Homo sapiens: one gene and its partner. The protein of the gene in region 1 purifies or fractionates together with the protein of each later gene. This does not show direct contact. Each region holds a gene or a part of one and is shown on either strand. Other genes may lie near its edges. The genes, in order: BCDIN3D and ACACB.

The links.
Region 2: the proteins of BCDIN3D (region 1) and ACACB purify together in Homo sapiens (affinity purification with mass spectrometry; one large-scale study listed by BioGRID and IntAct). This does not show direct contact.

Annotation. Positions count from the first base shown.
Region 1 is NC_000012.12:49,840,097-49,844,366, reverse strand, and holds the start of BCDIN3D (RNA 5'-monophosphate methyltransferase), read left to right. Parts: upstream 1-1,260; 5' UTR 1,261-1,279; coding exon 1,280-1,513; intron 1,514-3,212; exon of another isoform or gene 3,213-4,270. UniProt on the Homo sapiens protein: O-methyltransferase that specifically monomethylates 5'-monophosphate of cytoplasmic histidyl tRNA (tRNA(His)), acting as a capping enzyme by protecting tRNA(His) from cleavage by DICER1.
Region 2 is NC_000012.12:109,248,962-109,252,775, forward strand, and holds part of ACACB (acetyl-CoA carboxylase 2), read left to right. Parts: intron 1-1,022; coding exon 1,023-1,143; intron 1,144-3,084; coding exon 3,085-3,195; coding exon of another isoform or gene 3,196-3,360; exon of another isoform or gene 3,361-3,617; intron 3,618-3,814. UniProt on the Homo sapiens protein: Mitochondrial enzyme that catalyzes the carboxylation of acetyl-CoA to malonyl-CoA and plays a central role in fatty acid metabolism.

The DNA of each region.
Region 1 (4,270 bases):
AACAGCGCTTATTTTAACTCCTGATGGTACTGTTTGCAGGAGTCATGCTCCAGTGCCTTATAAGAAGTTTACCGAACTGCCAGCCTCATGGAGCAGGATACCCCTTTAAGATGGGTGGGCCAGGTGCAGGGGTGGGGTTGGGGGTCCTGCACAACTCTGCTGATGCTTGGTTGACCCTGACGGATATTCTGGGCCATCCTGGCTTTTGACTGGAACCTGCTACCTAGGTTGACCCTTCAGTTCCTCTCCTTATCAGCTCTGTTATTTCCAATCTCTGAGTCACATCTTGCCCAACTCCATTCCACTATGTCTGCTTCAGTTGGCATCCTTTCTCCCTTCCATTTAAAGTTTCCCCAAACAGATCTGGCCTTATTGTATTCTCTATTGAGTTTTCATTCAACAACATTTGTTGAGCATCTTTGTGCCAGGCCCATGTTAAGTATAGGAGACTCAAGGCTGAGAATAACACACCGTTGCAAGCACATCCTCTGGATCCAAACTCCCTGGGTTCGAATCCTAGTACCATCATTTCTAACTGTGGGATCTTGGACAAGTTACTTTGTTTTACTCCAGTGTCCTCATCTATATAAAAAGAATAATAATACGGTCATTTTCTCACGGGGTGAGAGGATTGACTAAGGAGCTTACAAGGGTGTCTGGTGCCTGGTAAGCACTCTTTAAGTGCTGGCTCTTAAGGCACGGTCCTTGCCTCTCAAGGAGCTCATGGTCTACAGTTGCCCCTGGGGGACAGGGCTGAGTCGGCTGGCTTCGCAAGTGACCTGCACCTCCTGGCTACCCTTTCCTGAACCGGGTGGAAGTTTTTGAGTCACAGATTCAATGTATGACCCCAGACAAGTAAGTTCTCTCGGTCTCACTTTTTGCATTTATAAAGAAAGGAAATTGGACTAAAATTGATTTCCAAGATCCCAACAAACTAGTATACTTGTTCTGGGTCAAGTAGCCCAAGTTTCAAACTATGTCAGCTTGGCCAAGACACTTAGCCCTCAGAGTTTGTTTCATCCCTGTAAAACGTGGATGATATTGCTAATCCCCTCCCAGTGTTGTGATGAGGGTTCAATAATACAAGGCAAGCCCCAGGCGCTCGCCGGCTCCAGGTATACAGCGAGAGGAAATCAGGACAGCTTTTCTGATTCACCGCAGAATTCTAGCCACCCGCCCTAGCCGTTCGACGCACGCGCGCTGGCACCGCCACCGCCCACGCCGACAGCAGGTTCCCGGCTTCCGGTTCCGCCACGGCCCAGAGGCTGTGTTGAGGCTAATGGCGGTGCCCACGGAACTGGATGGAGGGAGTGTTAAGGAGACCGCAGCGGAAGAGGAATCGCGAGTTCTGGCACCTGGCGCCGCCCCGTTCGGAAATTTTCCTCATTATTCTCGCTTCCACCCTCCGGAGCAACGGCTCCGCCTCCTGCCCCCGGAGCTGCTTCGACAGCTCTTTCCTGAGAGTCCCGAGAACGGGCCGATTCTGGGGCTCGACGTGGGGTGTAACTCCGGGGTGAGTGACAGGGGAGGGATTGGAGCATCCGGAGCCAAGTGGTTGGCTGCCTACACATCCACTGTGGTTCTGGCCTGGGCTAACACCCATCGAAACTTTCCCAAAACGAGTATAAAGCGTGGCTTTGACTGAGCCAGTGCCGCTGCTGCCTGCCCGCCAGGGTTCCACCATCTGTCTTAGGAATCTCTCTTGGAGAGGAGTCCTTGTCGACTACGTTCCCACTTTTCTTTCAGGGCCAGACCCCAGGTGGGAACGGTCCTTGTATCTAGGGTGGCCTCTGTCCAGCGTGCCTGGCGCTTTGGCTGGGGAGAGGGGGCTTCCAGAGACACACGTTTGGGAACATGGGGTTAGGTTTGGTTTACTGGGAGAGAAGAGCCAAGGGTGACAGAATCATGCCTGATATTGAGACTCATGTGTGCTATACAGTGCAGGACAGACCCTGGGACCTGCATGTTTATTTCAAAAAAAGTGAGTAGGCCGGGCGCGCTGGCTCACGCCTGTAATCCCAGCACTTTCGGAGGCCGAGGCGGGTGGATCACAAGGTCACGAGATCGAGACCATCCTGGCTAACACGGTGAAACCCCGTCTCTACTAAAAATACAAAAAATTAGCCGGTCGTGGTGGCGGGCGCCTGTAGTCCAGCTACTCCGGAGGCTGAGGCAGGAGAATGGCGTGAACCCGGGAGGCGGAGCTTGCAGTGAGCCGAGCTAGTGCCACTGCACTCCAGCCTGGGCGACAGAGCGAGACTCCGTCTCAAAAACAAAACAAAACAGTGAGTTGACAGAGTACAGTGGAGAGGATCGAGAAGCAAATAAAGCATTTTGCCCAAGGGAATGGAGAAGGGCGGCACTGCCACTCTTCTTGCTGCAAACTATTCTTAGGCATATGATTATAATCAAACCACATGCAAAATAAGGAAATGTCTCTCCCACACCTATTTGTAGCCACTGGGATATTCTACACTAGCAGGCAGTCTGAACTTACCACGGCAAATGCTTCAAAAGTTAGTACCCTCTCTGCGCTCCCTCCATCACTCCAGTCCAGCATCTGGAGGGCGGGGGACAATTCTGTTACGTTGCTGTCCTTTTACAGAAGAGACTTTGGGGGACGACTTCAGACCTTGTGGGACTCAGATGATAGTAGGAAGGGGACATTTGGATACAGTCTCAAAGACTGGAATGAGGAGATGGGTTGATGTCCTGTGTCCCCTGCAAAATTTCTCCGCTGTGATGATACGGGAAGTCAGAGGGTAAAAACAATGGAAAAGAGAGACTGAGGTTAAGGCTTGGGATTTCACGAAAGGCATTAGGAAACCACCAGAGATTTTAAAGTTGAGAGTAGTATACACATGAGAGGTAAAGACATAGTTGGCAGCTAACTAGGGTAGTGGTTCCCAAACCTGGCTGTACGTTTATGGAGCTTTCTGTTTTGCAGTTTTTAAAAAATGCTTTTTCTTGTGGATCTTTGTAGTCAGGAAAGGGAAAAAAAATGCTTGCGCTTGATAAAACAAAAAAATTCAAACTACAAAGGGGTATATACTAAAAAGTAAGTCTCTACTCCCAACCCTAAATCCTCCTTTTCCCCCACACAGTGGCACTACTGTTTATAATTTCTTAGGTATCAGTCTTGTGTGTATACCAGCATTTACGTACATATAAGTACCCCCCTTTTAGTTTTACAAATGGTAACACACTATTAGTAGCTTTTAATTCTGAGATTATTTATATCACCACATTCTTTTTTTAGCAGCTTCCTAATGTTTCATTGGATAGATGTACCATAATTTATGGGTGCTTTTTTTTTTCAATTTTAAAAACTCCTTTCCCAGCCTGGGCAACATGGCAAAACCCCATCTCTAAAAAAAATTAGCCAGGTGTGGTGGTGGGCATCTGTAGTCCCAGCTACTTAGAGAGCTGAGGGAGGAGGATCGCTTGAACCCAGGAGGTCGAGGCTGCAGTGAGCCTTGATTGTGCCACATACCCCAGCCTGGGTGACGAAGTGAGACCCTGTCTCAAATAAAACAACAACAAAAAACCCAAAAAACTGCTGGGTGCAGTGGCTGACGCTGTAATCCCAGCATTTTCAGAGACTGACGCTGGTGGATTGCTTGAGCTCGGGAGTTTGAGATCAGCCTGGGCAACATGGCAAAATCTCATCCCTACCAAAAATACAAAAATTAGCTGGGCATGGTGGTGTGCACCTGTGGTTCCAGCTACTCATAAGGCTGAAGTAGGAGGATCTCTGGAGCCTGGGAAGTCAAGGTTGCAGTGATCACACCACTGTACTCCAGCCTGGGAAACAGAGTAAGATCCTGTCTCAAAAATAAATAAATAAATAAATAATAAACATTTTCAGCACCCCACAACTTCCCCTATATGCCTTTTCCTGTTCATAAACCTCTATCTCTACCCAGAGGTAACAACTAGCCTTCTGTTGTTTCCTTGCTTTTCTTTATAGTGTACTGTTTTTCTTCCCTGAATGATGTACTTTAATTTCACCCATTTTTGAGCTTCATGTAAATGGATGCTTTTCATATATTTTCTGTTATGGCTTGCTTTTTTTCTCAACATTATGTATTTGTGAGAATCATCCATGTTGTGCACCAAGCTGGGTGCCTTCATTTTTTAACTGCTATTTAGTATTCTATCTTCATGATTATACCACATTTATTTGTCCATGCCACTATCACTGGACATCTGGGTGGTTTCCATTGTGCATTTTCTTCACCTGCAGAAAAGGCATAAATAAATATTTTCC
Region 2 (3,814 bases), about 59 Mb from region 1:
ATATGGGCCGAGGGTGATATTTCACTGAGACAGCCCCTGAACAGGCAGATATCTTTGGTTGTATAAACCAAAAAGTATCTGAGACAGGTCTCAATCAATTGAGAAGTTTATTTTGCCAAGGTTAGGGACACATCCAGAAGCAAAGAACACGGAATCATAGAAACCGTCTGTGGCGTGTACCTTTCTTCAAAGATGATTTGGAGGGCTTCAGTATTTAAAGGAGAAAAGCAGGCTGGAGGGGAAAGAGGGAAGTTCTGGTAATCACATGTTGCAGGAGAAAAGGCGCAGGCAGGGGAAGTCAGTTATGTATTCTTCCTGCGCTCAGTAAGTCAGCACTTTCTATAAGATAAGGTGGACATAGAGGAACTACCTGTGGAGATATTTCAGCTTTTATCTGTATCTATCTGCTTACTAAAGAAACAAAAGGAAAGGCAGCTTGCACAACTCAGCTTCAGCTTAAATTGTTCCTTTTGGCATTGTGAATCGTGGTCCTAGTTTTTATTTTCCTTTCACAGATGGGAGCAGTGTGATGATTTATTTATTTATTTGAGACAGAATCCCGCTCTGTCACCCAGGCTGGAGTGCAGTGGTGTAATCTTGGCTCACTGCAACCTCCACTTCCCAGGTTCAAGCGATTCTTCTGCCTCAGCTTCCCAAGTAGCTGGGATTACAGGCGTGCACCACCACGCCCAGCTAACTTTTGTATTTTTAGTAGAGATGGGGTTTCGCCATATTGGCCAGGCTGGTCTCAAACTCCTGACCTCAAGTAATCTGCCCGCCTCGTCCTCCCAAACTGCTGGGATTACAGAGCAGGGTGATGATTGTTGATGCTGCACTTGCCCTTTTAGAAATCTTAGCACTCATTTTGAGGGTTCTAGATGCCAATTTCATTTTGCCTCTGGATGCTTTGTCTGCTTCCAATCTCTCACCTTGCTGCCCAGTCAGTCCCTTCTTGGGAAATGCATCCACCTTGGATTTTTTGGGGCTAGAGCCCAGCCTTTAACCTGTGCTTGCTTTTGAAGATACATGATCACGGATATCATCGGGAAGGATGATGGCTTGGGCGTGGAGAATCTGAGGGGCTCAGGCATGATTGCTGGGGAGTCCTCTCTGGCTTACGAAGAGATCGTCACCATTAGCTTGGTGAGTCTTCTTCTATTTTCTCTTACTTTTCAACTTTCCATTATAGAAACTTTAAAATTGTCACAAAATTAGAGAGAATCAATAATAAGCCCCATGTGCCCGTCACATACCTCCTACAGTTACCACATGCCAGCCCACTGATATTTCCTCAATCTCACCCCCATCCCCTGCACCTGTTTTAGAGTATTTTAAAGCCAGCCCCCATCATGTCTTTTCATCCATAAATACGTAAGGGTAGATCTTTAACAGATAATGACTCTCACCCTCTTCCCCCGGTTTTTAAAAACATAACTGAAATACTAATATTACACCCAACAGAATCAGCAATATCATTGAAACCCAGTGTGGTTTAACAGTTATCTCAAAATACCCTTTTCTAGTGGTTTGTTTGAATCAGGGTCCAATCTCATCTTATTTTCAAGGTACTGAATGTTTAGAAGAACTTTTCTCTGACTTTAACTGGCATATAAGGAGTAGTCCCCATCCCATCCCCATGGCCTTTCCAAAAATGTTTTCTGTTTCTAGTAGTAGTACTACTGTAGTAGTAGTAGTAGTACTAGTAGTAATTCTAGTACTAGCAGTGGTGGTAGTAGTGGTGGTGGTAGTAGTAGTAGTGGTAGTAGTGTTTGTGGTGGTGAATCTGTATGGGTCTAAGGCAGAGTGAGAGACCGAGGCAAGTCTCTCAGCAGGAGTGAAAGTTTATTAAAAAGTTTTAAAGCAAGAATGAAATGAAGTACACTTGGAAGAGGGCCAAACAAGGCAACCTGAGAGATCCAAGTGCCTCATCCAACCCTTTTGAGGTTTTATGCATTGGCATGATTCCAGGGTTTGTGTTTCTTCTCCCCTGATTCTTCCCTTGGGGTGGGCTGTCTGCATGCACGTGGTCTGCCAGCACTTAGGAGGGGCCGCATGAACAGTGTGTTTACTGAAGTTGTGTGCATGCTCACTTGAGGCTTTCCTCCTTTACCAGTCGAGTGTTCCTAGAAGAAGGGCACGGTACCAGATAAACTCTGCCATCTTACCTCTTAGCATGCATGCTTGAGCCCACCCACCCAGCTCCTGAGATCTTATGGGGAAGCTGCTTATCACTAGCTTCAGGTGTTTTCTATCTATCAGGAGATTGCCTTTCCCTGGAGCCAGCTGTGACCAATATTAATTTTAGAGAGACACTTTAGCAACTGCCTAACTATCACCTGATGGTTGCCTTCCTCTCCTGCCCTGCTCATGTCTGCTTAACTACCTACTCTAACAGCAGCAGCAGCAGGAATAATAGTACTCTTTAATGATAAACTGCCTTGGAAGGCCTTATTTGTACATGCAATGTTGAATCTTCAGTTTCCAAGTGGAAAATGTTGGTCATAAGCATCTTCCTTGGGCTTGTTTTCTAGATTATATGTATAGTCTTTTTATTTTGAAGTCATCTAGGACCCACCGTAAGTTATAAGATACTACAGAGAATTTCCAAGTACCCTTCACCCAGCTTCCCCTATGGTACTTACATAACCGTAGTACATTATCGAAACCAGGAAACTGACATTGGCACAATATTGTTAACTCAGTACAGACCTTATTTTGAATTTCACCAGTTTTTACATGCACTCCTAGGTGTCCTTTTGGTTGTTAAGAGGCTGCAATGGCCCATGAATGCCCAGGCTCAGAAGAGCTGCACACAAGCCTCTTAAAATCTGAAACATTCACTGTCTGCTGCTTGTCTTTACAGCAATCTTTGTTAACCATGTTATTTCCAGATAGGAATCCAAGCTCAATAAAGTGGCCTGAAGAATAGGCTTTTGCCTCTACTGTGGTTTGGCTCCAAATCGGGTTGCCATTGGTCAAAACATAACTTCCATTTGGTCCCAGCAGGTTCCTGGACTCTTCCCTGCTGTGGGGGGTGGGTCCCTCGCCACTCTCCAGAATTCAGAGGGGGTCCTCTCTCCACAGGTGACCTGCCGAGCCATTGGGATTGGGGCCTACTTGGTGAGGCTGGGCCAGCGAGTGATCCAGGTGGAGAATTCCCACATCATCCTCACAGGAGCAAGTGCTCTCAACAAGGTGACCAAAAAGGGGCCTGTGCAGAGTGGATCCTTGGGGGCCAGGAGTCATTTTAACATTCCCATTGGTCTCTGGTGGGGGATTTTTCTCAATATGAAGCCAGTTTCATTCCTACTGATACAAGAGCTCTTTTTTTCCAATTTGCAGCTATCTGGGTCCTTATGAGAAAAAAAAAATTAGTTTTAGGCAATTCTGGTCGATCTAACTCCCTGTATTACTGACATTTTAAAACAAATTATTGAAGTGCCATTACACATTGCAGAAAATTAGAAAAGGAACCCCCCAAAAAAGTAATTTTGCAGCTTCTATCATTCTGGTATAGTTCCCTCTCATCTTCTGTCTTTATGTGGTTAATTTATAGTGAATATGCAGTTTTGTATTCTACTTTTTTCACTGTATTAAAACATTTTCCTTGTTGAAAAGTCTCTATACTTAATGTCTGCTCAAATCTCAGCCAAAGTCTCAAAGCCTGGTTCTTGAACCAACAGCATCAGCATCAGATGGGAACTTGTCAGAAATGCACATCCTCAAGCCCTGCTGCAGACCTGCTGAATCAGAAACACTAGCTAGGGTTTTGCTTTTGAGATGGTCAAGGTAGAAGTCAGCTGCATCACCAGTT